2 separate regions of the Homo sapiens genome follow, and region 2 is linked to region 1. The links come from fine-mapping of genetic effects on plasma protein levels. Region 1 holds a variant in brackets. A gene starts in the other region. All regions are shown on their reverse strands.

Region 1 (10,931 bases):
TTGTCTTTCTATGCTTGGCTTATTTCACTTAACAAAATGTCCTCCAGTTCCATCCATGTTGCTGCAAATAGCAGGATTTCCTTCTTGTTTATGGCTGAAGAGTATTCCATTTTGTATATATACCACAATTTTTAAAATTTATTCATTCGTTGATGGACACTTAGGTTGATTTCACATCTTGGCTACTGTAATGCTACAGTGAACGTGAACGTGCAGGCATCTCTTTGGACATACCGATTTCATTTCCTTTGTAATGTACACCCAGTAGTGGGGTTGCTGGATCATATGGTGGCTCTATTTTTAACTTTTGAGGAATCCCGTGACTGATTCTAAGTTAGTAGGGGAAAATTAAGAACAGGCATATAATTCCTGCAGAAATATTTCTAGTAGGATGACTGTCACATGCAGCTGCTGGGGTGAAAGCACAGTTATAAGAGCTGGGACATCAGCATCAGGCAATGAGAATCTGATTCCTGCTTCTCCCCTCACCAGCTGTGTCATCTCCAGCATGCTATCTAAACAGTGTGAACCTCAGTTTTCTCATCTATAAAATGGAGACATTCATTAATCAAGTGTTGTTGTTGAAGGCACAAATGTAGAGCGTTTGTGAAGTCCTTAGTCCTATACTTGGCATGTGGTATGCAATAAATATTGATTGGTTGATTTGGCCAACAAATATTATAGTTCCTGATACTTGGAAACTGATGTTTACCTTTTTAGTAGCTCTGATACCCATAGTTGATCCCCTGATCCCCTGGATCCACAGTGATCCAATGAGTGAAATCAGACAAAGATGTTTATCTCCACTTTTAAAAGTAAGGAGGCAGGCTTAGGGGGCTACACAAAACTTCCAAAAGTTGCACAGTGAATACAGAATAAACCTGAGAATAGATTCCAAGTATTTAGACTAAGTTTTAAGCGCCTTATAATTTATCACCCATCCTTTGATCTTTGTCTTCTTCCACAAATATTATTGAGTTTCTGTGACGAGCTAATCCCTGTGGTGAATAGAGTATTCTATGTCCTGAGAGTGGAGGCTTATGTATCTCACAATCCTGCCCTTCGAATCTCGCCCTCCTCCCGTTTTATGATCAGAAATGTGTTCTATTCAACTCTGTCAGTGGAAACTAGTAGAGAGCCTGGCACAAAGTAAGTGCTCATTAAATAGCTAGTCAATGAGATTATTGATCAATAGATTATTCTAATACAGTTTTTTCCATGACAACTGTCCCTAGAATTGCAGGTACTGAGCAGAAGGAGGAACCTTTTCTCTGCAGAACCTCATAGGTGTGCAGTAATGCATAGGCTTTGAAGACAAATAGACCAGTATTAAATCCCAGCGCTGTGTGACTTTGGACAGCATGAACCTCAGTGAAGTTTATCTGGAATAAACTTTACCTGAAGTTCATTAGAAACTTCAATGTCTTTATCTGGAAAATGCAGCCAATAATACTTGCCTGGCAAACTTGTTTTGAGAATTAAATTAGTTGACCAGCTGAAAGTGCCTAGGTTAGTAAGCTGTCACGTAGGAGGTGCCAGATCAATGGCAGTGATTATTACTTGTGCAAGGTACAAGAGGTGGCATCAATTTGAGATTCATAAATATGCTAGGTATGTAGTGGGACCATCACCCTTATTAGAATTATAGCTGGAATATCCCATTGGGTTAAGCTGCACTCTGAATACAGGGTTCCTTCTCAGATTGAGAAACCCTTTGTGAGCCTTCTCTTCACCACTGTACATGCGGAGGTAGGAACAAGTGCTGGCCTTCCACCACTGCTTCCTCTCACCCCGTGGGGAGGGTGGCTGAGTCATGCTGACTTGCACCCAGTGCAGCTTGCACTCGTGTCATTACAGTGCAGAGGTCTGCAGGCGCCACCAAAGTGAGTTCTGGCTTTTTATCCTCCTTGTTACAAAGGCCAGAATCACACATAGAACAGAATGTAAACAAATTTTCCAAGCCTCTATTTGTTCTCAAATTGGTCAATGTTTCCTGTCCCACTGCCCCCGGATCCCCACCCTCCACTCTAAACCTCAAAGACTAAAAATGCAAATAAGTGAAATCTTCAACAGTTATTGATTTGAAGAGAAGCTTTGAGCTTGAAACCCTGATTTTTTTTTTAGATTATTTGTAGCACTTTAAGTACAAACTTGGACAATTTATTTTCTGCATAGTTTTGAAAATGTTTATAGAATAACTGAACCCAGAAATATGAAGGACTAAAACCTAGAAACCCAATAAATAAAAAGTGGAAACAATCTTAATGATAAATAAGAGGAAAATGATCAACTAAAACTGTGAAATTGTGACACACTTATATATTGAAATACTATCCCTAAAACAATGTTAGTTTTAGTGACATTAGAAAAATGTTTAAAATATAATGTGTATAAACAGAGATAGAAAACTCGGCATACAGCAGGATTCCAATTGTTAAATATGTTTAAAATGTACCAAGACGACTTCTATATATGATTATAATGATTATTATTTTTACCTGTTCTTTATGCATATCCACCTTTATACAACAAATGCTTAAAATCATTATACTCAAAAATGTTTTAAAAATGTAATTGTATAACTAATTTTCAATCGTCTTTGCCCTTGAAAGGGAGTTCTAAGACCAATCACTTCAGTAAGAACTTAACTAGTAAACACTTGTCTCTCATGAGGTTATAGTCATTCTCATTGACATGAACAGGTTAAAGACAGCAAGAAATGTGTTTGTGAAAAGTCAAGTGCCGTCTGAGTTGCCAAATTTCTGGAGAACAGTGTTGTATGGAATAAAACGAAAATAAAATCCTAGATTGTGAGTTAGGAAATCAAAATGTTAATACTAGCTGTGCCACTAAATGGTTGTAGAGCTGGACTAGCTTACTTCCCCTCTTTGTTTTTGACTTGTTTCATTTGTAAAATGAGAAAAAAATCACTCCTTCACTCGTTCATTTATTCACTTCTTTAAGAAATGTTTCTCAAGGTTATATTGTGGGTTGAGTACTATTGTAGACACTGAGGACAGATCAGTGGAAAAACACAAATGTGGCTCTTGCCTTCAGAGAACTTATGGTCCAGTGGGGAAGAAAAAGCATGGACTACTAACTAAGTAAATATGTGTAATAGTATCAGGTGCTGTGAAGGAAAATGAAGCCAGGTAAGGAGAAAGAGAGCAGCCTGCAAGGTCCCTAAGGAGGTGATTTGTAAGTAGATAACTGAGTGAAACATAGAAGCAAATCTTGCTGCAATCCAGAGGGGAGGGTGTCCCAGGTAGAGGGAATAGCCTATGCAATATACGGGAAACAGAAGTGTGGCTGCAGTCGAGAGACTCAGGCAGAGAGTGACGAAAATGAAAGTCAATTCTTTTCCACTGCCGTATAACCAAATAGAATCCATGGGAGAGCCTGTCGGCAAGCTCAAAATGCTCCTGGCGCACTTGAGCTCTAAAGTCCAAGGCCTTCACACAGGGAATGCATTACAGGAACTTCATCAGTTCTGCCGTGATGCTTTGAAGGCCCGCTGTGCAACTATTAGCTGATCCCACTTAACAGACAGTGACGCAGTCACCAGGCATGTTTGTGCCCAAGCAGGTGATGATTTTCTCTCCACTGACTCCAGTCAAGGACTTTTCCCTTCCAGGTTTCAGGCTCCAGGTGACATTGGGCACAGAGGGTCAGGTGGAAAGTGAACAGGTCACGCGCCGGGCAGGTGACACGATCGGTGCTCTGCTCACATTTCAAAGAGCCCACTTTTCCTCCTATGTGTCAAGCACACAGTTACTTTGAATGCTGCAGAGTAAGATGATTCATCAATTTCCGAACGCTTGAGAAAGGAATCACTGTTTAGATATTTTAAATGTTTTCCTAACCCTTACAGAGGTAGCTATAGCTCAGGAAGATAAACTGAAATGAAGGTAAGAACAAAAAAAGAAGCAATTGCTCTCATCTATAATTATAAGCTTTATCATTTATTGTGCACTGATAGTTGCATTTCCAAGCAGACATTATTAATTAGTGAAATAATGAGGCAATTTGCATTCATCCTGATTCAGAAAAATTCAAACTACTTCAACAGACCAAGCATAGGTAACTCAGCCTAATTACTTTTTGCTTTTTTATTAGATGAGGAAACCGAGGCATATAAATGGAATGGATCATGAAATGAAGTAAAGTTAAAGAAGTTTTAGTCAAAGCTTCATAGAAATCAGATTTTCATCAAGGATGAAAGTGAATTGGGATTATTTGTAGAGATGTATTAGAGTAGAAGGAGGTTAATTACTTTCTGATTAGGTTAACCTCTGAGTATCACCATCAGCTTTGGCAGGTTATCTAAGCTCTCTGAGTCAGTTTCTCTACCCATAAAATGGAGCTGTCAATCCTTGTCTGACATGCATGATTGTTCTACAGAATAAATGAAAAACCTATGTGCCTGCAAAACAAAAGTGGGTTGTCATGTGAATGGATGGCTACTGCCCAGAGCCCAGGAGAAGCACCATTTCAGGAGCGGGGTGGGGAGGAGGCTCTGCATTAACCTAGAGTGTGTTGGGCTACATAGTTCTGGAAGAACTTCTATCCAGCAAGCTGGGACCACACAACAGAATGAAATTAAAATCAGCTTAAGAGATGTGTGTGATGTCTAGATGGGTTTCTAGTCTGAGGCATACAGAAGAATCCTGGCAGATCTGTTTTCCACACACACAAAAAAAGAATAGAGCCAGGAGAGTTTGGAACCAAGTGGTTCCAACCATATATCCAACCATCCAATGACCTGATTCTGAAATGAGTTGATTTGTGAAAGCATTTGTAGGCCTGCTTTTACAGGATGCTAGGTTTGTGACACAGAGAAGCTCTCATGGCTAAAATGTTCTGCTCTGTGCAATTAGAACTGACAGCATATATCTAAAAAATGGCATTCACAAGTACTTTACGCACTTTAGGAAAACACTTATATTGGACAAGCATAAATAGCAAGGGGCCAGGAGGCCCCTTTCCTATGTTAGTTTCTTTTTGTTTTGTTTTTAAACAAGGGTCAACCAGTCTTCTGAGGTAAAACAGAAGAAACAATAAATAATCAGAAACACAATGTCACGAAGGCTCTTTGCTTTTTAAACTCAAAGAAACACAAGCTGAGAGAGGTTTAGTCACTTCACTCAGATTACAAAGTGTAGACAGTGTTAAATCAGAATCCTGAGTCAGGGATCTTCCCTTCCAAGCAAGGTGTTTTCTTACTTCACCCAACATGCCTCTTCATGGATGCACCTT[C/T]CTGAGTTGCAGCCAGCTCCTCGGAGGGTAAGATGACTGTCATTTCTGAGTCCGAAGATCAGGCCATGATGTGGTTTGGCTGTGTCTCCGCCCACATCTCATCTTGAATTGTAACTCCCATAATTCCCACGTGTTGTGGAAGGAAACTGGTGGGAGATAACTGAATCATAGGGGCAGTTTCCCCCATACTGTTTTAGTGGTAGTGAAAAAGTCTCACAAGATCTGATGGTTTTATAGGGGAAAACCTTTTTGCTTGGTTCTCATTCTCTCTTGCCTGCTGCCATGTAAGATGGGCCTTTTGCCTTCCAGCATGCTTGTGAGGCCTCCCAGTCACGTGGAACTGTGAGTCCATTAAACCTCTTTTTCATTATAAATCACCCAGTCTCAGGTATGTCTTTATTGGCAGTGTGAGAAAAGACTAATGCAGGTCACTCAGGATTCTCATCCCAGAGAGAATAAAATGAAAAGCAAAGTTGTTGAGCAAAAAGCAATATGCTGTTTGGACTCAGAGATCTGGCTGTGGTCTCAGATAAGTCAATGAACTTCATTGAGTGTCAATTTCCTCATCTGTTAAATATGGATAGTGGAGGCTACCTTGCTGATTTGTTTGGGCATCGAATGTTACAAGAAAATGACATGTGAGAGACATTAATAAAGAGGAAAACAGCAAAGAAACATCTCTGTTCTTTCTCCTTCTGCTTCACTTTCTTCTCCTCAATGCTATTATTATCTTTTATCATCTTACCCTCATTCAATGGCATGAAAATAGCTTCTCATTTCATCTAGGTCTTCATCACATATATTTGATTTGATTTGCTTTATTGGGCTCTAGGAGTATGAACACAGTACAGATTGTCTTACATTGGCCTTATCTTTCTTCAAGCTGCACTCATCTTTCTGAATAACCTGAATGAAGGCAGGAAGCAGGATGACAAGGGGCTCTGCATCTTTCCGTATTTATCATTTGGTAGGAATAATGTAAGGATTCTATGTTTCCCCCACCATCGACTGTAATATTCTATTCTATTGTCTTGAATTGCTTGTGATAAGGAGGGAGTGTTCGTTAAATATTATCTAGCTAATAGTACCCTTATTTGTATAGGGCACCTGTTATCCCAAGGTTTCACTTTACCCAACAAATATCTCATTATCTAAACGATACATCCCAATGCCACCAATAACGAAATCTCCTCCACAACCTCAGTTTCCAAAAGAACTAAAAGTTCTAAAAAGAATTCTTTGGTTGTGTTTCTAGGCTGTTTTCCCACCCCTTGGAAAATATTGTGTCACAGACTTTATTTTTCTGTTGAGACCCAGGAAGCAATAAGGTCTGAGGCACTAGGTTGGGAGACAGGAGGTCCATGCTTTGACGGTGATTGTGGTGGTTATTTTGATGATATCATACTTGATCACTTACCACATGGCTTTCGATTCTTATGTTTTAATTGATGTAATTCTAACCAAAATATCGGTCAGGGTATTTTTGATATAAGGAACACAAGAACCAACTGAGAATGGTATAAATAAAAGACAATATTATTATCTCACTTAAAACACTTGTGATGGTAGGATGCTTTCAGGATTGGCTCCACACCTTGGGATTCTCGCCTCTTCAGCCTGTCGGCTTTTGCCTTCAGATGTTTCCTCTCAATGAACAAGGTGGCTACTGTAGCTCCAGGCATCATAATAATATGCAAAATTTAAAATGGGAAATGAAAATCTGTTTTCGAGCCCCTTTTTAAGAACAAGAACAAGGAAAATTTGCTAAAAGCCCACTAGAGAACTTCCCTCCATGTATCACTGACCCCATGTCCATTATTAAGATATTCACAGGCAAGGGAGGAAAACTGCTGCCCTTGGCTTAAATTGGCCAGTACATGCCCACATGTGCACGTACATGCACACACACACATGCACACACACACGTGCACGCGCACACACACACACACACACACACCATTCCATGGATAACGCTGAGGAGGGACACAGACTCTCGTAAAGCAAAAGAATGCCAATTAACTCATCACCGTTAAGATTCTATTAGCAGGCAAAAACGGAAAGAACAACCATCAGCTAAGTAGCTATTGTTAGCCTGAGAAGCAGAGGTTCAGAGTAGTTATTAACTACACCAGTCAGGGTAAATTGACCACTGTGACAAAGGACTTTAAAAATTAGTGGACTAATAGAACGAAAGTTTCTATCCTCCCATTCAGCTGGCAATAGAGAAAGAGAGGGAAAATTGTTCATGGAATGTTCTGGGTCAGGCCTAAAAGTGCTGCATATCACTCAGCTCACATCCCATTGGATATAACTCAGCCCCCTGGGCACACAACTGCAAGGGAGAGAAAGAAAGGGGAGCACTCTCCCATGGTCACAGAGCAGGTGGCCCAGCAGAGATGTCACGCCAAGTAGGTCTCATGCATGGGTGAAGCCACATTGCCTGTCATCCTGATAGTCCTCCTACCTGTGTGGCACTTTTAGGTATCAATGAATTTAATTTTCCTATCAACACATTTCCTGCTGAAACCATCTATGGTCATTCCTGCCCTTATCATGGTAAGTTTTAAATTGTCCTTTTAAAACTCACTCATATCTTGCCTGAGGTCTCAATTTCTTTGACCTCTTGGATATTAGATGTTATTGGCTCCCTGTTCTAGAATCATCACCTTTCCTCAGTTCTCAGACATTAACTATTCCTGTCTTTCTGCCAGCCCATCCTCTTTTTCTTTTTCCCCTTCTTTCTGATCCCAGTTGTTTTCCCTCTACCCATCTCCCTATGGAAAACTCTGCCCTTGACGATGGCTCCATTCTGATCTTTGTATTAACATCTGCAAAATGCACATTATTATTCTGAGCCTGTCACCTGACCATAGGCAGTAATTCAGATGTTAACATTATTACAATGACTACTGTTACCTATATTCACACTATCATTATTATTACTCCTACAAATGTCTTGGTACATATCAGATATTAATGGTAAGTACTTTTCTCATTTTATCTTTTATTTATTTATTTTTGAGGCGGAGTTTCTCTCTTGTTGCAGGCAGGCTGGAGTGCAATGGCGCCATCTTGGCTCACTGCAACCTCCGCCTCCCAGTTCAAGTGATTCTCCTGCCTCAGCCTTCCTGAGTAGCTGGGATTACAGGCATGCACCACCACACCCGGCTAATTTTGTATGTTTATTAGAGACAGGGTTTCTCCGTGTTGGTCAGGCTGGTCTCAAACTACCTACCTCAGGTGATCCACCCACCTTGGCCCCCCAAAGTGTTGGGATTACAGGCGTGAGCCACTGTGCCCGGCCTCATTTGATCTTTTAAATCTCTCATAAATCCTAGGGATTTGTTTCCCCACCCCTCACTTTTGTTTTAGAAAAGAAAGCTGAGGGTTACAGAGAAAAATAAAATGCTACTAAGTGGAAGAACAGGATTTCAAAACTATACAGTCTGACTCCAAAGCCAAAACCATTAGCCTGTATGCACAATTGCTTCTCAGACCTATAGGACTCCGCAAATCGCATGCTGTTAGTTCCCTTTAAGTATCTCTGAGCTTGACCCAAAGCTAAGCACATAGTAAGTGCAGACAAGTGCTAAATATAAACTCATCACACCCAACGGCAAGTAGATCCTCTTCTGACAAAATCTACATCTCCCAAATTCTTCTTTTTGCCATGTTTTCTCGAATTATGTTTATATTGTTTCATCCTTGTTGATACATGCTCTTTCTTAGAGACACGGACAATGACATCAGATACAATTTATCAAAAACTTATCCTATTCCAGACAATGCTCTTCACGCTCTAACTCTATGAGATTAGCCTCATTATTATTCCCATTTTACAGATGGGAAACAAGCTTAAAGACTAAGTGGTTGAGATGGGGTAATCACATTGAAGTTCAACTCTACCATTCACATTCCTATCCTTTAAGTTCTATTGCCTGTGGCAATGCCACTAACTCCAGTACATTCCTTTCATAGAATCTCTTGAGGCTGTATTTGTTACTTCTTAGTCCTGTTGCCAAGACCCAGAGTAGATTCTCAAGTATCTGATTATGTAAACAGCCTCCTTGCTAAGCTATAACTAGTCCCCTCACCCTTTTAAATCAATGTTAGTAGTTACCATTATTTTAATTGACCCCATTATCTGCTCTCCTGGTGTCTATTACTATCATCTTCCAAAATCTTCATTCTGTGTTAGTCAAAGATTCCTTGTGTCTACATAGGACATATTTATCATTCTCTCCATGATTTAAGCTTAGTAAGGAGTATTGGGTGGGGCTTTCAAAGCATCCTGCACATTAGACTATGAGGAAGGTAATCCAGATGAATCCAGGCATCAACTCCCAGGATTATTCTCATTGTTTCCTCAATCACTTTCCACTTTGTTGGCTCTTAAGGAGCACCCAGTCAGTGTTTATGGGAAGTACTTGATCAGTAAAAAGAACAGACTTTGGATTTATCCATTCATCCCACAACCACCACTCAGTAAATTGACCACCTAAGTGCTAGACTCTATCACATTACCTGGATGGATATCATTAGAATTAAATGAGGTAATAGTCAAGTCTTGGCTGGGCGCAGTGGCTCATTCCTGTAATCCCAGAACTTTGAGTGGCCGAGGCAGGTGGATGACTTGAGGTCAGGAGTTCAAGACCAGCCTGGCCAACATGGCAAAACCCTGTCTCTACTAAAAATATGAAAATTAGCCAGGTGTGGTGGTGCACACCTGTAGTCCCAGCTACTTGGGAGGCTGAGGCATGAGAATCACTTGAACCCAGGAGGTGGAGTTTGCAGTGAGCCGAGGTCACGCCACTGCACTCCAGCCTAGGCGACAGGGCAAGACTCTGTCTCAAAAAAAAAAAAAAAAAGAAAAGAAAAAAAAGAAAAAAGAAAAGAAAAAAAAGAAAAAAGAAAGAAATAAAGAAAAAGAAAAAAAAAAAAGTCTTTAGAATAGTTCCAGGCACATAGTAAGTAAACTATACATATGTAAGTATGAATCCCCATTTCCTCTTGAATAAATGAATGTGTCAATGAATTCTCAAACTTACTGTTTCTTATCATGTTGTTAAGCTGTGTCTCTTCTCCTGGTACTTTGCACTGGCTAGTCCCCCAAATCTGCCACTTGGTGCATGGAATGACTGTGATGCCCAGCCAGTTTTTCCCCAGTATGGATCCTGCTAACTGTTGGTTTTGATTCTGCCTACCAGCCCTGCATTATTTTCACTTAACATCGATCCAGCAAATATTTATCCAGTACCTATGATGTTCCTGGCACTGGGCTGGGCTCTGTAGATACAATGGTAAGCAAGATGTGTATGACCCCGAAAAGAAAGGAACAGTAATAATTAGGCGTAAAAAAGAATATGCTTGTGAAGTCTAGGGTACAATGAGAGAACACACTCAAAGCAAAGCACAATATATCCATAAAACGATATTTGTCTTTCTTACTTGCCTGAGGTGATCTTTCCTTTCCCTTATGCCAGTTCAATCCTACTCATTTTAGGATGCTACTGGGTATAGCTACAGAACACAATACAACACAAAACCTAAAATGACTTCAGCAGCATAAGACAAAGCTCGTTTTTGTTTTTGTTTAATTCATGTGATTGCATAGTCCAGGGATAATTGATTTTAGGAGAAGCTTCATCTTATAACTCAAGGTAGGACCTAGAATA
Region 2 (10,931 bases), not on the chromosome of region 1:
GTTCCCCCCATGCTGTTCTCATGATAGTGAGTTCTCACAAGATCCAGTGGTTTAAAAGTAACACTCCCCACTCTGCTCTCTCTCTCCTGCTGCCATGTAAGATGTGCTTTGCTTCCCCTTTGCCTTCTGCCATGATTGTAAGTTTCCTGAGGCTTCCCAGCCATGTGGAACTATCAAACCTCCTTTCTTTATAAATTACCCAGTCTCAGGTAGTATCTTTATAGCAGTGTGAGAACAGACTAATACAGAGAATTGGTACCAGCTCTCATGAGATCCGATGATTATATAAGGGGGAGTTTTCCTACACAAGGTCTCTTCTCTTGTCTTGCCACCATGTGAGACATGCCTTTCAACTTTTGCCATGATTGTGAGGCCTCCCCAGCCAGGTGTAACTATAAATCCATTAAATCTTTTTTTCTTCCCAGTCTCAGGTACGTCTTTATCAGCAGCATGAAAACTGACTAATACATGTGAAAATGCCTGGATGTCCAGGCAGAAGTCAGCTGCAGGGGCAGAGCCCTCATGGGGAACCTCTGCTAGGTGTACTGCTATACAGATAACCTGAAACTTGTAGATGTGACTTTGGAATTGGATAACAGGCAGAGGTCGGAACAGTTTAGGGGGGGCTCAGAAGAAGACAGGAAGATGTGGGAAAGCTTGGAACTTCTTAGAGACTTGTTGAATGGTATTGACCAAAATGTTGATAGTGATATGGATAATGAAGTCCAGGCTGAGATGGTCTCAGATGGAGATGAGGAATTTACTTGGTCCTGGAGCAAAGGTCATTCTTGCTATGCTTTAGCAAAGGGACTGGTGGCATTTTGCTCCTGCCCTAGAGATCTGTGGAACTTTGAACTTGAGAGAGATTATTTAGGTTATCTGGCAGAAGAAAAATTCTAAGCAAAAAAGCATTCAAGAGGTGAGTGGCCTTTTCTGAAAGCATTCTATCATGTGCATTCACAAAGAGATGGTTTGAAATTGGGACTTATGTTTAAAAGGGAAGCAGAGCATAAAGGTTTGGAAAACTTGCAGCCTGACCATGTGGTAGAAAAGAAAAACCCATTTTCTGGGGATTCAAGCCAGCTGCAGAAATTTGCATAAGTAACAAAAAGCCAAATGTGTTAATGGCCAAGACCATGGGGGAAAATGTCTCCAAGGCACATCAGAAATCTTCATGACAGCCCCTACCATCACAGGCACAGAGGCCTAGGACAGAAAAATGGTTTCGTGGGTCAGATCCAGGGCTCCATTGCTCTGTGTAGCCCCCAGACATGGTGCCCTGCATCCCAGCCACTCCAGCTCCAGCTGTGGCTAAAAGGAGCCAAGGTACAGCTCGGGCCATTGCTTCAGAGGGTGCAAGCCACAAGCATTGTCAGCTTCCATGTGGTGATAGGCCTGCAGGTGTGCAGAAGAAAAGAGTTGAGGTTTGGGAACCTCTGTCTAGGTTTTAGAGGATGTATGGTGATATGGTTTGGCTGTGTCCCCACCCAAATCTCATCTTGAATTCCCACGTGTTGTGGGAGGGACCTGGTGTGAGGTAATTGAATAATGGGGGCAGGTCTTTCCTGTGCTGTTCTCATGATAGTGAATAAGTCTCATAAGATCTGATGATTCTATAAGGGGGAGTTTCCCTACACAAGGTCTCTTCTCTTACCTGCCACCATGTGAGACATGCCTTTCACTTTCTGCCATGATTGTGAAGCATCCTCAGCCATGTGGAAGTGTAAGTCCGTTAAATCTTTTTTTCTTCCCAGCCTCAGAAGTGTCTTTATCAGCAGCATGAAAATGGACTAATACATATGAAAATGCCTGGATGTCCAGGCAGAAGTCTGCTGCAGGGGCAGAGCCCTCATGGAAAACCTCTGCTAGGGCAGTGCAGAAGGGAAACGTGGGGTTGGAGCCCCCACACAAAATCCCCACTGGGGCATTGCCTAGTGCAGCTGAGAAGAGGGCCATCATCTTCCAGACCCCAGAAAGGTAGATCCACTGACAGCTCACACCATGTGCCTGGAAAAGCCACAGGTACATAGCCCCTGAAAGCAGCCATGGGGGCTGTACCCTGCAAAGCCACAGGATGGAGCTGCCTTAGGCCTTAGGAACCCACCCCTTACATCAGTGTGTAGGGTCCAGCCCCACAGGGTCAGTGGGTCTCTCCCCATGTGCAGAGACGAGAGAGTGTAGAAATAAAGACACAAGACAAAGAGATAAAAGAAAAGACAGCTGGGCCCGGGGAACCACTACCACCAAGTCACGGAGACCGGTAGTGGCCCTGAATGTCTGGCTGCACTGTTATTTATTGGATACAAAGCAAAAGGGGCAGGGTAAAGAGTGCGAGTCATCTCCAATGATACGTAAGGTCACGTGGGTCACGTGTCCACTGGACAGGGGGCCCTTCCCTGCCTGGCAGCCGAGGCAGAGAGAGAGAGGGAGAGAGAGAGACAGCTTACGCCATTGTTTCTGCTTATTAGAGACTTTTAGTACTTTCACTAATTTGCTACTGCTATCTAGAAGGCAGAGCCAGGTGTACAGGATGGAACATGAAGGCGGACTAGGAGCGTGACCACTGAAGCACAGCATCACAGGGAGACGGTTAGGCCTCCAGATAACCATGGGCGAGCCTGACTAATGTCAGGCCCTCCACAAGAGGTGGAGGAGTAGAGTCTTCTCTAAACTCCCCCAGGGAAAGGGAGACTCCCTTTCCCGGTCTGCTAAGCAGTGGGTGTTTTCCCTTGACACTTATGCTACCACTAGACCACGGTCCACCTGGCAACGGGCGTCTTCACAGACACTGGCGTTACCGCTAGACCAAGGAGCCCTCTGGTGGCCCTGTCCGGGCATAACAGAAGACTCGCACTCTTGTCTTCCGGTCACACCTCACTATGTCCCCTCAGCTCCCATCTCTGCATGGTCTGGTTTTTCCTAAGTTATGATTATAGAGCGAGGATTATTATAATATTGGAATAAAGAGTCATTGCTACCAACTAATGATTATTGATATTCATATATAATCATATCTAAGATCTATATCTAGTATAACTATTCTTGTTTTATATTTTATTATACTGGAACAGCTCATGTCCTCAGTCTCTTGCCTCGGCGCCTGGGTGGCTTGTCGCCCACACAGTGTGCCCTGGATGTGAGACATGCAGTCAAAGGAGATCATTTCAGAGCTTTAAGGTTTAATGACCGCACTGCTGGGTTTCGGACTTGCATGGGGCCTGTGACCCCTTTGTTTTGGCCAATTTCTCTCATTTGGAATGGGAACATTTACCCAATGCCTGTATCTGCGTTGTTTCTTGGAAGTAACCAACTTGTTTCTTATTTTACAGACTCATAGGTGGAGGGACTTACCTTGTCTCAGATGAGACTTTAAACTTGGACTTTTGGGTTATTGCTGGAATGAATTAAGACTTTGGAGGACTGTGGGGAAGGCATGATTGATTTTGAAATGTGAAAAGGACATAAGATTTGGGAGGAGCCAAGGAGGAATGATATGGTTTGGCTCTGTTTTCCCACCAAAATCTCATCTCAAATTGTATTCCCCAAGTGTGGAAGAAAGGACCTGGTGGAAGGTGATTGGATTATGGGGGCGTTTTCCCCCATGGTGTTCTCAAAAAAAAAAAAAAAGAAGAGAAAAAATATATAGTATATTTGAGTTTTAAAGCATAATAACACCCAGTAACCTCTATCCAACCCAATAGTCATTTCAAAAAAAAAAACAAAAAAACAAAAAAACAGTGGTTTAAAACTACATAACTATCAGAATCACCTAGAAAAAAAAATTTTTTTTTTTCGAGATGGAGTTTCACTCTGGTTGCCCAGGCTGGAGTGCAATGATGCGATCTTGGTTCACGGCAACCTCTGCCTCCCGGGTTCAAGCGGTTCTCCTGACTCAGCTTCCCAAGTAGCTGGGATTACAGGCATGCACCACCACACCCGGCTAATTTTTATATTTTTAGTAGAGACGGGGTTTCTCCATGTTGGTCAGGCTGGTCTCAAACTCCCAACCTCGGGTGATCCGCTGGCCTCGGCCTCCCAAAATGCTGGGATTACAGGCGTGAGCCACCATGCCTGGCCTGCTGAAAAAAAATTTAAATAAAAAAGAGCGGCTGGGCACGGTGGCTCATGCCTGTAATCCCAGCACTTTGGGAGGCCAAGGCGGGCAGATCACCTGAGGTCAAACGTTTAAGACCAACCTGGCCAACATGGCGAAACCCCATTTCTACTAAAAATACAAAAAAATTAGCCAAGCGTGATGGCGCATGCCTGTAATCCCAGCTACTTGGGAGGCTGAGGCTGGAGAATCACTTGAACCTGGGAGGCAGGGGTTGCAGTGAGCCGAGATTGCACCACTGCACTCCAGCCTGGGTGACAGAACCAGACATCGTCTCAAAAAAAAAAAAGAGAGAGAGACCACAGATTTCAGATCCTTATACCCAACCTGCACATCTTACATTCCAATAATCTGTATTACCTTTTTTTTTTTTTTTTGAAACAGGGTCTCCCTCTGTTGCCCAGGCTGGAGTAGAGTGATACAATCATAGCACAATGTGGCCTTGAATTCCTGACTCAAGCAATCCTCCTGCCTCAGCTTCCAGAATAGCTGGGATTATAAGCTTGAGCCATCATGCCTGGACTATATCACTCTTTAAGTTTTCCAGGGGAGTCCAGGGATCAGTCAAGTTTGGGAGCCACTGGCTACACTATCCCTTCTCCGGAGAGATGGAGGTAGACAGTGCCATTATAGCAGTTAGGAGGCTGTCAGGAAGATCCTGACACTGAAGATGGTGGCTTTGGGAGTGGAAAAGGTTTAGTTACACCGGTATACTGCCTCATTTTGCTCATTGGCACCTGATGGTGGGCTAGCCTATACAAGGCTCTTAGTATCCTTCCTAGCACAGCCTCACAGCATGTTAATTGCTGCTGTTGTTATCATTGGAGAGAGCAGGAATCAGAGGCAGGTAGACACAGGTTCAAATTTTTTCTCCACTTTCTAGCCATGTGACTTTGAGCAAGTTACTTACACTCTCTGAAACTGCTTCATCATCTATCTATAAGATGGGGAAGATGATGACAACTATCACAGTAATAATAACTATATCAGAAGAGTGTTGTTAGGCTGAAAGACAACATATGTAAAGCACAGTGCTAGCACAGTGCCAAGCGTATAGAAACACTCAGCAGATGGTAGCTGGTAGCTGCTGTTAAGCACTTCCTAGAAACAGGAGCCCTATCCTTTAGAAGCCAAATAGACCTGGCCGGGTGCGGTGGCTCACGCCTGTAATCCCAGCACTTTGGGAGGCCGAGGCGGGCGGATCACCTGAGGTCAGGAGTTCGAGACCAGCCTCAACATGGAGAAACCCCATCTCTACTAAAAATACAAAATTTGCTGGGTGTGGTGGTGCCTTCCTGTAATCCCAGCTACTCAGGAGGCTGAGGCAGGAGAATTGCTTGAACCTGGGAGGCGGAGGTTGCGGTGAGCTGAGATCACGCCATTGTACTCCAGCCTGGGCAACAAGAGCGAAACTCCATCTCAAAAAAAAAAAAAAAAAAAAAAAGAAGCCAAGTAGATGTGGCCTTGCTGAAGCGTGGGTACGCCCTCACCTGAAGGGGCCAAGCAGCTATGCTTAGCTGTTCTTTCCACTGAAGAGTGTGTTTTTCCCAGGCTGGGAGAGGCTGTGCTTCGCACACCTGTGCAGGGATCTGGGGTGGTGGAAGGTCAAGGTACAAAGAGTGTAGGGGCTTGGGGAGCTACCTAGTGCCCTTCCAGGTCCCTTATACTGTCACCTTTGTGGCAGGAGCCACAGAGGTCTGGGCTGTCACAGTGAGCATGTCTCTTTCCAGGGGGAGAGGGTTGTGGCAGCGGCCGGACCCCCTCCCCACCAGGTGCTTTGCCTAAACTCCAGCACGTGGAGTTTGTCCAGATTGTTCTTAGGAAGGCTTTCATGGGCTGGGGAAGGAGGGAAGTCGTAGGTTGGACTGAATCTCTTCCTTCCTCAAGGGACTTTCAGTACTCCCTAGCCTGAGATGGTAGCATGAGAACCAGATCGAACTCATATCTTGGTCCTGATGTGTGACTCTGGGGCAGTCACTTAACCTCTCTCAGCCTCAGCTGTCTTCTCTGTAAAATGAAGTTTGTACTGGACCTACCTCGACCTTTGTGCCAGGTTCTTAGCATATGGGACCTGGGATGGAGTTAGCGCTCAGTTAATAGTAACTCATTAGCCAGGTGCGGTGGCTCATGTCTGTATTCCCAGCACTTTGGGAGACCGAGTTGGGTGGATCACTTGAGAGCAGGAGTTTGAGACCAGCCTGGCCAACATGGCAAAACACTATCTCTAATAAAAATACAAAAATTAGCCAGGTGTGGTGGCACTTGCCTATAGTCCCAGCTACACAGGAGGCTGGGGCAGAAGAATCACTTGAACCTGGGAGGTGGAGGTTGCAGTGAGCCAAGATTGCACCACTGCACTCCAGCCTGGAAAAAAAGGGTAATTAATAACTTTACTTGCAACCATAGCTGCTTCTCCTTCTTTGAGCCACCCCCAATCACCCACTTAGCATCCTTCAGGCCTAAACCTAGGAGCAGTGCCTGGTCCTCTGTCTTGTTATGACCCCAAGGAACCCACATAAGAGGGACTGAACATTTTGCTGGGCAAGGCTTCCCTTTGCTTGGGCAGACTCCACTCATTCTGGGGCTGCAGAGGCAGGACCATTCAGTCAAGCTGATGTGGGATTCTGACCTAACCAAGTCCCCCTCCATTAGTCCTCATAGCCCCCACCTCCCATGGGGCAGCCCTGAGACAGGCTCTGTGACAATCCACAGCAGCCCTGTCCAACAGAACCTTCTGTGATCATGGAAACATTCTGTGGCTGCCAATCTGGCAGCCACTCGCCACATGTGTCTATGAGCCTTGAAATGTGGCCATTGTGACTGAGAAACTGAACTTTTAATGGTATTTCATTTTTATTTTTATTTTTTTTTTATTTATTTTGAGGCAGAGTCTCACTCTGTCACCCGGGCTGGAGTGCAGTGGCACTCGGCTCACTGCAAGCTCCGCCTCCCGGGTTCACGCCATTCTCCTGCCTCAGCCTCGGGAGTACCTGGGACAACAGGCACCCGCCACCACGCCCGGCTAATTTTTTGTATTTTTAGTAGAGATGGGGTTTCACCATGGTCTCGATCTCCTGACCTCAGGTGATCCACCCGCTTCGGCCTCCCGAAGTGCTGGGACTGCAGGCATGAGCCACCACGCCCGGCCCAGAAAAGAGATGATTAAACATAAAGCAGCCATGTGATGAAATGGCACTTTGCCTCTGTGGTCTTCCTCCCCCAAACCCATAACTGTAATCTAATTATGAGAAAAACACAGGACAATTCCAATAGAGAGCCAGGTGCAGTGGTTCACGCCTGTAATCCCAGCACTTTGGGAGGCTGAGGCGGGCAGATCATGAGGTCAAGAAATCAAGACCATCCTGGCCAACATGGTGAAACCCCGTCTCTACTAAAAATACAAAAATTAGCTGGACGCAGTGGTGTGCACCTGTAGTCCCAGCTACTCGGGAGGCTGAGGCAGGAGAATCATTTGAACCCGGGAGGCAGAGGTTGCAGTGAGCTGAGATCGCGCCACTGCACTCCAGCCTGGTGACAGAGTGAGACTCCGTCTCAAAAATAAATAAAAATAAATAAATAAAAATTAGCTGGGCGTGGTGGCACGTGCCTGTAATCCCAGCTACTCAGAGGCTGAGGCACAAGAATCACTTGAACCTGGGAGACAGAGATTGCAGTGAGCCGAGATTGTGCCACTGCACTCCAGCCTGGGCGACAGAGTGAGACTACAACAAACACACACACACACACCCACACACACACACACACAAATTCCAAGAGAGGGTCATCCTGACCAATACTCCTCAAAACTATCAAGGTTGCTGGGCACAGTGGCTCACGCCTGTGATCCCAATGCTTTGGGAGGCTTAGATGGGAGGATCACTTGAGGCCAGGAGTTCAAGACCAGCCTGGGCAACATAGGGAGACGCCGTGTCTCCAAAAATTTTTTTGAGACAGAGTCTCGCTGTGTCGCCCAGGCCGGAGTACAGTGGCGTGATCTCGGCTCACTGCAAACTCTGCCTCCTGGGTTCACGCCATTCTTCTGCCTCAGCCTCCCAAGTTGCTGAGATTACAGGCACCCGCCACCATGCCCAGCTTATTTTTTGTATCTTTAGTAGAGACAAGGTTTCACTGTGTTAGCCAGGATGGTCTCCATCACCTGACCTCGTGATCCGCCTGCCTCGGTCTCCCCAAGTGCTGGGATTACAGGTATGAGCCACCGTGCCTGGCCCAAAAAATTTTTTTAAATTAGCCAGGTGTGGTGACACATGTCTGTAGTCCCCACTAATCGGGAGGCTAAGGTGGGAGGATTGCTTGAGCCCAGGAGGTTGAGGCTGCAGTGAACTATGATCGTGTCACTGCACATCAGTCTGGGAAACAGAGCGACACTTTGTCTCAAAAAAAAAAAACAGATAAATAAATTAAATAACCAGGCCCTCCTTATCCCACAGGGTTGTTGTAGAGGTGACATAGGAACAGAAGAGCACCAAGTTAACCAATTATAAATCTATATAGAGAGAAGCAGATCAGAGGCCAGGCACAGTGGCTCATGCCTATAATCCCAGCATTTTGGGAGGCTGAGGAGTGGATCACCTGAGGTCAAGAGTTTGAGACCAGCCTGACCAACATGGTGAAACCTTGTCTCTACTAAAAATACAAAAATTATCCAGGCATGCTGGCAGGCGCCTGTAATTCCCAGCTACACGAGAGGCTGAGGCAGGAGAATCGCTTGAACCTGGGAGGCGGAGGTTGCAGTAAGCCGAGATCGTGCCATTGCACTCCAGCCTGGGCGACAAGAGCGAAACTCTGTCTCAAAAAAAAAAGAGAGAGAGAGAGAGAAGCAGATTAGCAGTTACCAGGGGCTGAGGGAGTGTGACTGCTAATGGGTACAGGGTTTCCTTCTGGAGTGATAAAAATGTTCTGGAACCCCATAGAGGTGATGGTTGCACAACACTGTGAAGGTACTAAATGCCCCCGAATTGTTTACTTAAACGTGGTTAATGTTATGTGAATTTCAGCTAAACAATGTTATGTAGATATTTGGCCGGGCGCGGTGGCTCACGCCTGTAATCCCAGCATTTTGGGAGGCCGAGGCAGGTGGATCACGAGGTCAGGAGATCGAGACCATCCTGGCTAATGCGGTGAAACCCCATCTCTACTAAAAATACAAAAAAAAAAATTAACCGGGCGTGGTGGTGGGTGCCTGTAGTCCCAGCTACTTGGGAGGCTGAGGCAGGAGAATGGCATGAACCTGGGAGGCAGAGCTTGCAGTGAGCCAAGATCGCGCCATTGCACTCCAGCCTAGGCAACAGAGCAAGACTCCGTCTCAAAAAATATATATAAATAAATAGATATGTGATGTGACAGGTTTTTTTTTGAGATGGAGTTTTGCTCTTGTTCCCTAGGCTGGAGTGCAATGGCGTGATCTCAGCTCACCGCAACCTCCGCCTCCAGGGTTCAAGCCATTCTCCTGCCTCGGCCTCCGGAGTAGCTGGGATTACAGGCATAAGCCACCATGCCTGGCTAATTTTGTGTTTTTAGTAGAGACAGGGTTATTCCATGTTGGTCAGGCTGGTCTCGAACTCTCCACCTCAGGTGATCTGCCAGCCTCAGCCTCCCAAAGTGCTGGGATTACAGGCATGAGCCACCGTGCCTGGCCTCTGATATGACAGTTCTAATGCCCTTTAGTATTCTATAATTCAGACTCAGGCCTTTGGAATCCAAAGCCCAGGTTTTTCTCACAAACCCACACTGCAGAGCGGAGTGGTGGAAAAAAATAAAACCTCTGCCTTGGAATCAGACAGATCTAAACTGGAGCCCTATTTTGTCATTTGCCAACTGTGTGACCTTGGGCAAGTTACCGCAACTCTCTGAACCTGTCTCTTTATCTGCAAGGTGCACGACTGATGGGACTATTCAACCAGACCCAGTGCACAGATTCAGGCACTTGATAAGACATTGAGGCTGCAGGCAGCGATCTTTTTTCTTTCTTTCTTTTTTTTTTTTTTTTTTTGAAATAGGGTCTCACTCTGCTGCAGAGGCTCAATCACTGTTCATTGCAGCCTTGACCTCCCTGGCTCAAGAGATCCTCCCATCTCAGCCTCCTGAGTTGCTGGGATCACAGGTGCAATCCACCACCACACCTGGTTAACATTTTTTTTTTTAGAGATGAGGTCTCTCTATGTTGCCCAGGCTGCACTTCCTTCTTGTCTCCCTTATCCCAGCGTCCGACTGAACTGACGGCTTTGCTTTCCCCAACCAGCCCGTGAAGCTGGGCTGAGTACAAAGTGGTGGGTATGAGGGTCAAGATTGTAAGATCTGAAAACTCCAGAAACCATCCCTTTGGTTAACAGTTGCTAAGGACAAATGCATAACATATTTTCCAGTGATCCCATGCTGGCAAATCGTCAGGGTCATTCCTGCAACAGACAGATTCAAGGCCAGCCCCAAACTCAGCCAAGAGCAAAGCAAACACTCCAGCCTTATCTGGGCAGGGTTGTGTGGAGACTGACTATAAGACTATACCTGAGACTGGTCATCTCAGTTCTTTTCTCACCTTGACTGCAAGATGAAACTCCTTGTGCTAGCTGTGCTGCTCACAGGTAGGCAAGTCTCCCCGGCTCCACCCGCCTTTCTCTCCCAAGTGAGCTAAGATCTCACTCCTCTGGAATGGGGGCCACAGGCCACAGCAAACAGGGATGGCCAGCCCCGCAGTCTCAATTCGAGGTTCCCAGTGGGGCTTAAGGGCTCCTCTATTGGGGTTCCCTCAAGGCTGGCACTTTTTCAACCTGCAAGTCTGAACTCAGATTGCCTGAGCTAA

Direction of the effects. Alleles are on the strand shown, and positions count from the first base shown. The strength of an association depends on the size of the effect and on how common the allele is.
For the plasma level of the protein whose gene starts at base 10,654 in region 2, T is the low allele of the variant in region 1 and C is the other (moderate association).

The links. A credible set is the group of variants that fine-mapping cannot tell apart. PIP is the posterior inclusion probability: the model's chance that the variant is causal. Protein levels are from antibody-based Olink assays in UK Biobank. Linkage for the fine-mapping came from a reference panel and not from the study's own genotypes, which makes the PIPs less certain.
Region 2: it holds the start of PLA2G1B, and the variant in region 1 is the best candidate, but not a certain one, in a credible set for the plasma level of the PLA2G1B protein (UK Biobank, PIP 0.61).

Annotation. Positions count from the first base shown.
Region 1 is chr8:128,547,742-128,558,672 of GRCh38, reverse strand. All of the region lies in intron 2 of LINC00824 (long intergenic non-protein coding RNA 824), which reads left to right. Among named protein-coding and RNA genes, the nearest start is that of LINC00824, 11 kb to the left of the region's middle. RefSeq lists a cis regulatory region at 1,805-1,815 and enhancers at 1,738-1,882, 3,196-3,490, 2,935-4,134. The variant C/T (reference allele first, on the strand shown) is at 5,257.
Region 2 is chr12:120,327,502-120,338,432 of GRCh38, reverse strand. It overlaps PLA2G1B (phospholipase A2 group IB), which reads left to right and starts at 10,654. Exons shown (of 4, transcript NM_000928.3): 1 at 10,654-10,713. The coding sequence starts at 10,680. RefSeq lists an enhancer at 2,557-2,626.